Linked DNA regions of Homo sapiens. The protein of the gene in region 2 purifies or fractionates together with the protein of the main gene of each other region. This does not show direct contact. Each region holds a gene or a part of one and is shown on either strand. Other genes may lie near its edges.

What was found.
Region 1: the proteins of ALG5 (region 2) and GDPD5 purify together in Homo sapiens (co-immunoprecipitation; one large-scale study listed by IntAct). This does not show direct contact.

What each region holds. Positions count from the first base shown.
Region 1 is NC_000011.10:75,438,628-75,442,442, forward strand, and holds part of GDPD5 (glycerophosphodiester phosphodiesterase domain-containing protein 5), read right to left. Parts: coding exon 3,736-3,815; intron 3,177-3,735; coding exon 3,019-3,176; intron 2,684-3,018; coding exon 2,536-2,683; intron 1,335-2,535; coding exon 1,252-1,334; intron 1-1,251. UniProt on the Homo sapiens protein: Glycerophosphodiester phosphodiesterase that promotes neurite formation and drives spinal motor neuron differentiation.
Region 2 is NC_000013.11:36,964,591-36,968,405, forward strand, and holds part of ALG5 (dolichyl-phosphate beta-glucosyltransferase), read right to left. Parts: intron 3,218-3,815; exon of another isoform or gene 3,082-3,217; intron 1,137-3,081; coding exon 985-1,136; intron 1-984. UniProt on the Homo sapiens protein: Dolichyl-phosphate beta-glucosyltransferase that operates in the biosynthetic pathway of dolichol-linked oligosaccharides, the glycan precursors employed in protein asparagine (N)-glycosylation.

The DNA.
Region 1 (3,815 bases), on a different chromosome or scaffold from region 2:
CTAAGGCACTAGACGGAGGGAGACGTGGGTCCCTAAGCTCTAGGTCCCATCCTGGAAATTCATGTTGAAACCCAGAAGGACAGTGTCAGGCCAGGGTCTCTCGGCCAGGCATATCCAGAACAGGAAGCTCAGCCACTGTGGGGTCCTCTGAGGGGAATGAGGAAAAGGCTGTGTGTTGCGGGGAGCAAAGCAGGGATGGGTGTTAGAGATAGAATGTAAAGAAGAGAGAGAAAGAGATGGGAGAGGCAGAGAAAGGTAAACAGGAAGAGTGAACAGTGGGAGAGGCAGAGCCAGGGAGGGAGAAGATGGGAAGAGAGAGGCAGAAACTTGGTAGGGTCTGCCCTGGGCAAGTGGTGAAGGCCCCTGTAAGTGCCAGAGGCAGGGGGATGGGGGTACCCAGGCAGGGTCCCCTCCCCCAGGGAGACACTTTGGTGCAGAGAGGGGCCAGGTCAGGAAGCTGTCAAGGAAACGCTGGTCCCCACCTGCAGAAACGGCCGTGGGAACAGGGAGCAGAGGGACACACACGGCAGTGGGACGGGAGGAGCAGAAAAGAGGATTGCGGGGGTAAGGGAGGCTTCAGGCGAGCGCGCTGTCTGCGAGGTGGCCCGGGCACAGGGCTTGGTGCACGGTGGGTTTTTAGACAGAACTGGAGAAGGGATGGCAAGAGGGAGAAAGAGGAACAGAAGGAGGAGGAAGACCACACCAGAATTACCTGATCAAGTGATAGCTGTGAGATGCCAGAGTGCAGCAGAGAGAGGGGGAGGGGGAGAGAGGAGGGACATGCGCCGATCAGAGCAGGATGGGACAGAGAGAGAACATCAGTCAAGAATAAAATCCCAGCCCCTTGGTTCCTGGCTGGGTGGGGGCCCCAGGCTGGCCCTAGACCCTCCCTGGGACCAACCACACCTCCCCACTGCGAGCACACCCCAGCTATCTTGCTGAGGGCTGGTGGGAACCCATGCCCTGGCTAACAGATGAGCAGGCCAGCCCGGTGAGGAGCTGAAATTCACCTAAGCCCACATAGCCACCCAAGGCAGAGCTTGGCTCTGGGATCCCAGCTGCATGTTCATTCCAGAAGTCACCCAGCCTCTGTCTGAGGGAGGATGGGGCCACCGGAGTCCGTCCTTCTTCCCTGGTCAGGCCTGCTCCTGGCTGAGGCCCAGGGCTCAGGAGAGGGTTCACCTGGCTGGGGTGGGGGCTGGGCCTGCTGCAGGGTAGGGACAGCCACGGAAGTGGTCAGATCCTACTCACTTCTGGAGCACGAAGATGCCCACGATGAGGGTGAAGGAGACCAGGTCGGCAGTGACCCACATGAGACAGTACTCGTCCGGGGGCTGTGGACAGACGGCCCGAGGCCAACTTCCAGTCATGGCCAGTCCAGACTGAGGCTCCAGACTGAGGGTCCGTGGACCAAAGGACCCCACATGGCCACTGGGGAAGGGCAAGGGAGGACCCTGAGAGGGTCTGGGGGCTGAAGATGACATTTTGCAGGTGTAGGCTCCAGGCGCTGTGGGCCTGGGGGCCGGGGCGTGTGTGTGCACACGTGTGCACTCTCAGGGTAGGAGGGGACTGTATGGTGCTCAGGGCAGAGGGGTTGTGTGCTAGGCCTGCAGGGTCTGTGTGTCTAGGGTCCTCAAAGCAGGAGCCAGATACTGAAAGACAATGGCTTTGCCGCCCCCCGCTGCCGACTCTCATCCATCGGTCTCGACCCTTTCCCCAGGCTGCCTTCCCTTCACCCTCCTCTCCCATAGAACCATCCACAGCTTAGGTCTGATTCATTGGCACTGCATTCTCTCAGCCATAAGGATACCCTCCACCTGCCTTCTGCATGCTCAGGGTGACAGTGGAGCCACCACCTATCTGCAGGTGCCCAGTCAACCAGCTAAAATATTGCTTTATTTGCTGTTCTCTGAGCAGATTTTAATTGTTTCCTATTCTTTTTTATTTTTATTTTTTGAGACAGGATCTCACTTTGTCATCCAGGCTGGAGTGATCACAGCTCACTGCAGCTTTGACCTGCTGGGCTCAAGCAATCCTCCCACTTCAGCCTACCGAGTAGCTAGGACTACAGGCGTGTGCCACCTTGGCCAGCAAATTAATTAATTATTATTATTTTTTTTTGTAGAGACAGGGTTGCCCAGGTTAGTCTTGTACCCCTGGGCTCCAGTGATCATCCTGCCTCTGCTTCCCAAAATGCTGGGATTATAGGCGTGAGCCCCACGCCCGGTCAATGCTTCCTATTCCTGTCCTTGTTACCCTCCAAAGCAAAGAAACCCAAGCAGCTCTTTACTTCTTTAGAGCCCTTAGTGATGCTTTTCTCCCTGTGGATGAGGCCCAGGGTCCTCCCAGCACCTTAGTGCAGATCCCAGATGCCATGAAACCCTCATGCCTCAAGCCTGCACGCCCACCATGGACTCCCCACCATGCTAGAGACCTCCCAGGGACAGCTCCAAGCACAGAGCTTGCCGAGTGGTCAGGGCAGGCTATAGGCAGCTCCAGCACTGCCCCCCAGGGGCCCTCTGCCCCCCAACTCACCATGATCCAGAGGGGGGAAGGCACCTGGGACAGGGCGTGGGAGTTGTCAGAGGTGACGGATGGGACCCCCGCACACCACAGCAGGGAGAAGAGCCACGGTGCGTTGACTGTGTAGAGGTTCACACTCAGGTTCCAGGACGCGTAGTCCCTGTGGGGCAGGGGAGAGGCAGGTCAGCATGCGGACCCTGGCAGCTCCAGGCCCAGTGTCGGGGCTGGTAAAGCACGTCCTGTTCACGACCTCACAGCCATGCCCGGGGCAAGGAACATTGGCTCCAGAGGGCCAAGCTCCGGGACAAGCCCGGGTCTGCCCGACACGCTCACCCTCTTGTCTTTGAACCATGTGTGCCTGATTCCTCTGTGTGCCCATCCCTCTGCCCGACCGTGTGTGTGTGTGTGTGTGTGTGTGTTGGGGGGTGGTGGTGGCAGGACTGGGAGAGACTCAGTCCCACCCTCTCCTGGAGGAGCCCAGGGCAGGGCAGGCACCTGAGCTCCTGGCGGGACACCTGAGTGTAGCGCAGGTTCAGCCGCTGGATGTGGCCTCTCCGCAGGCTGGCGACTGCCTCCTTGGAGCCTGATGTCTGTTGGAAGCCGGGAGCCACCTTCCGCACCAGGGGCCTCTGCCTGCTAGGCAGCCACATGACCTGCAGGCAGAAGAGAGGCAGCCTCAGACTTCTCTTCTGCACGATGCGTAAGAGTACCTACTCCTCCTAGAGCACCTGTGGGGTTAAGAGACAGGACCTGGCAGGCGGTGAAAGCTTAGATGAAGTCATTAGCAGGGCAGGACTCAGTCCCAGCCAAGGCTGCAAAGTGCACTGGCAGCAACTCAGGAAACTTCGCTTCTGGCCTGCTGTCAGTACGGGAGGGAAAACCCAAACAGCCACTACTCTGCACATGGCCACTAGCACCTAGTGTGCCGTCCTAAACTGATGTCAGATTTCTCTGGTCCCAGATTATTACACCAAACGACAGGGCAACACTTCACTGAAATAACTTGACCGCCTGGACCTTTATACATTTTAAAGTGTTTTCTTGTTCCCCTCTTGTCCCATGATGACCCTGCCAGGGAAGTGAGCAGTGTGTGATCCCCATTTTACAAATGGGAAAGCTGAAGTCCGGAGTGCAACAGGGAAAGGCTATGCAGCAGCAGGGCTCTAGCCAGGCCAGGGCTCCCGGGGGCAGAGCTGCGTTGCAGGGCCTCACCTGGTGCTGGGGGAAGCCGGAGTGCAGCACGGCCTCCAGAGTCACGTTGATAAAACTGCTGCGGTAGGGGTGCTCCCGGG
Region 2 (3,815 bases):
AGTGGTCATTTAACATGACCACTGGCTTCAATGACATAGAGGTGGCTAGATGTTAAGATGAAGTAGACTGGGTGCAGTGGCTCACGTCTGTAATCGCAGCACTTTGGGTGGATCACCTGAGGTCAGGAGTTCAAGACCAGCCTGGCCAACATGGTGAAACCTCATCTCTACTAAAAATACAAAAACTAGCTGGGTGTGGTAGCGCCCACCTGTAATCCCAGCTACTTGGGAGGCTGAGGCAGGAGAATCACTTGAACGCGGGAGGCGGAGGTTGCAGTGAGCTGAAATCCTGCCATTGTACTCCATCCTGGGCAACAAGAGCGAAACTCAAAAAAAAAAAAAAATGATGAGGCATGGAAGAAAATCCATATGAAGAAGGTGGGGTGAGGAGTGAGTGGGAAGCAAGAAAACAAAGCCAGTGAATATAAAACACTTTTTCAAGAGAAGGTTGCTTGTGAAGGAGACAGGGCTAGAGCTGGAAGGGCACAGCAGGGTCAATGGAAAGGGTTCTGGGAAAGATGTGATGGAAGGGAAAAGGCTGAATACACAAGAGATGAAATACATGGACAGGATTAGGTTTTGACAAGGTGGAAGGAGATGTAGAGGTCAAAAGATCGGTCTTAGGAAAGACACCTTATCTTCCGTAGAAGGAAGAAAAGAGAAAATGGGTGCCCTATTCTGTTTTGATGTTTCTGAGCTTTTTCTTTTTTCTTCAAAGGAAAAAAAATGTTTTCAGGCCACTCAATTTCTACTGTCTACAATTAAGGTGAACACACATAACTTTATACCATATTGTTGGGTTTGTGTATTTTCAAAATAAGATCCAACTCAGGAAAAGTATAAAGGCAAGATCAAGTTTACATACATTATTGTCAATTTTGTTTAAATCTACATGTTCATTATAAATATACAGGGCTGTTTCTCATTACCTAGAAGATGGCTGGGTCATAAGACAGACTGGATACATTCCAGTCAGAAACCTACCATCGTTCAACGTGTAGAGATGAAAACGTCCGTGAAGCTGCTTCTCGAGTAAATAATTTGAACCCACACTGTGTGTCCCTGATTCCTTTGACACAAAGGAACCACACCAGAAAGTGGAACCCATACATGAGAAGAGTACGGAAGTAAGAACGCTGAAAACAAAGACAAAATATAAATGACTTTTCCATTCATCTGTAAAGGAGACACTGAAAACACCTGGCTGTAGACAACTGTATTTTAATATTTAATTGACTGGTAGATCTTACATAAGAACACCACTGTTCCATGAGCTTCACCAACAAAGTATATTAAAGAAACAGCAAGAATGCCTACTGCTTGGAGCAGAGTAGAGGCACTAGGAAGCAGTTACTCATTTCCTGGAGGTTGAGTCAGACAAGCGGCCAGGGCTTTAGCCTACCAGGAGAAACAGGTTTGGGGCTGCTGCTGTGAGCAAGGAGAACGTCTTGTTTACTTACATATTTTATGCTGCTTTGCCCCACATGTATTTCAGTTTCAAAAAAGCTGTCAGTTTCCAGGATGTATTGACAAAACAAAGCACAGATATAAGCCTGCAGTTGATACTTAACTAATGAGAATATTGACAGAAGATGTATAGCAGAGTATCATGAAGGTTATGGACTAGAAAGGAGTTTGAAACAAACACCTGGTCTTTCTAAGCATGCCAGAGATCTAATTAAATACATTTAAAATATTGAGTTCTTTAATACTTTGGATATTAAGATTAAGTAGGTTTTAATCCCATCTGAAGTTTCACTACTGTTACTGATGATTAATTTTATTAGTAGTAACAGAATATTCCATTATTCATAAAACATAGCACATTTTAAAACATAAGAACATAAGATTATTATCACTGGATTCCAGACTTTCACATTTAAGATTTAGTAAAAGATAGGATCTTTCTAAAAAATAAAATAACAAAATTTTTTTTAGAGACAGAGACGCCTTCTGTTGTCCAGGCTAGAGTCCAGTGGTGTGGTCATGGTTCACTGCAGCCTCAAATTCCTGGGATCAAGTGATCCTTCTGCCTCAACCTACAGAGCAGCTGGGATCACAGGCGTGTGCCACTATACCCAGCTTCTTTAAGACACGATCTTTTAAAATGTTCCTTAGTTAAGGCAATAGACTCAAGTAATGATGCGTTACTTACATACATAAGCAACCTATTAAGAGTCTATTAGAACATTTAATATCTCATACTATGGGATAAAGGTCCCTTCCTCCTTTTGGCTTTTGCTTTTCAAAATTATAATTTTTAGTATCGTTCTTCCTTTGCATGGCTTTTTCCATCAACACCAAACAGAACCACAGTGGAACAGAGTAACAAAGAAAAAGCACCAAATCAGGCGAGGTGCGGTGGCTCACACCTGTAATCCCAGCACTCTGGGAGGCCGAGGCAGGTGGATTGCTTGAGGTCAGGGGTTCAAGACCAGCCTGCCCAACATGGCGAAACCCCATCTCTACTAAAAATACAAAAATTAGCCAGGCATGGTGGCACACGCCTGTAGTCCCAGCTACTTAGGAGGCTGAGGCAGAAGAATCGCTTGAACTTGGGAGGCACAGGTTGCAATGAGCCGAGATGGCGCCACTGTACCCCAGCCTGGGTGACAGAGTGAGACTCCAACTCAAAAAAAAAAAAAAAGAAAAAAAGAAAAGAAAAGAAAAAGCACCAAACTAGGAGGCCTATATTGGAATCCTGGCTCCGTTACTAATTAGCAGGGTGACCTTCAACAAGTTACTTCAGCCCTCTAAGTCCATTTCCTGATAAAATGAGAATAATGCCTACCTCACAAAGTTATTATAAGGATTAAATGAGATTATTTTAAAGAATATAGCGAAGTGTTTGGCACAGAAAATAACAGGAACTCAATAATGTTCTTCATACAGGAAGAAAGCTTGAAAGCTTACTTTACTCTCCTGACCACAATTTTACTTATGTATTAAATAGGGCAGGAAGGAAAGGAAGAATAAAATACTTATCTATATGGTATGTAAAACAAACTTTTAAAAATGATCTAGCACTTCTCATTTATCATCTAGAATCATTAGTTATGGGTTGATGTAAATATGTCTTACCTCTCTAAGTAGATAGGGCAGAAACCTCATCTTAAAATACTTTAGGAATCTCACAACAGCTTGCTCAGTGCCTTCCATACAAAATACTTCCAATAAATACTGGTTGACTGATTAAACCTCCAAAAGAGCACTTATGCTTAGGAAAGGAACAAATAGAAATTGAAAGATAGAAAAATAAAAATTAAAGGTAGAAAAACAATACCTATAAATTATTCTCCTTGAGTGATTTTTAATGTGATTTGAGTGAGCTTATTTGTTCGCAAATAAAACTATTCATGACTGCTCTGGCTTGGATGTTAATAACAGGATTTTTGTTTGCTTTAGGATAATGGCTATTTTTTAAAAAGCAGAAAAATGTAGAGTTCACATGAAGACCTTAAGTTATTTGATTTCTAACATATTTAAAAGCTTAACAAGGTTAGTCACAAACAAGATAATCTTGTTTTTGTTTTTAGAACTTTGCAAAATATCTTAAAATTTAGAAGATACCTAAAATATAGGATAGACTTATTTAGTTAAGTGAAGCTACTAAAAGAGAGAAGGCTTATATGATCTTCTGAAATGGCCATTTAAAACATTAAGGAAAACAATTTTCACTGTTTCAGTGTTAACGCTAGTATCTTCAATGTTTATAAAATGTAAACAAGAAATTAATTCAGGTGAAATTTAAAGGTGACTTCTAATTTCATTAACTTAAAATAAGAAGTTCAAAGAAGTCCCAGGACTTAAGCAAA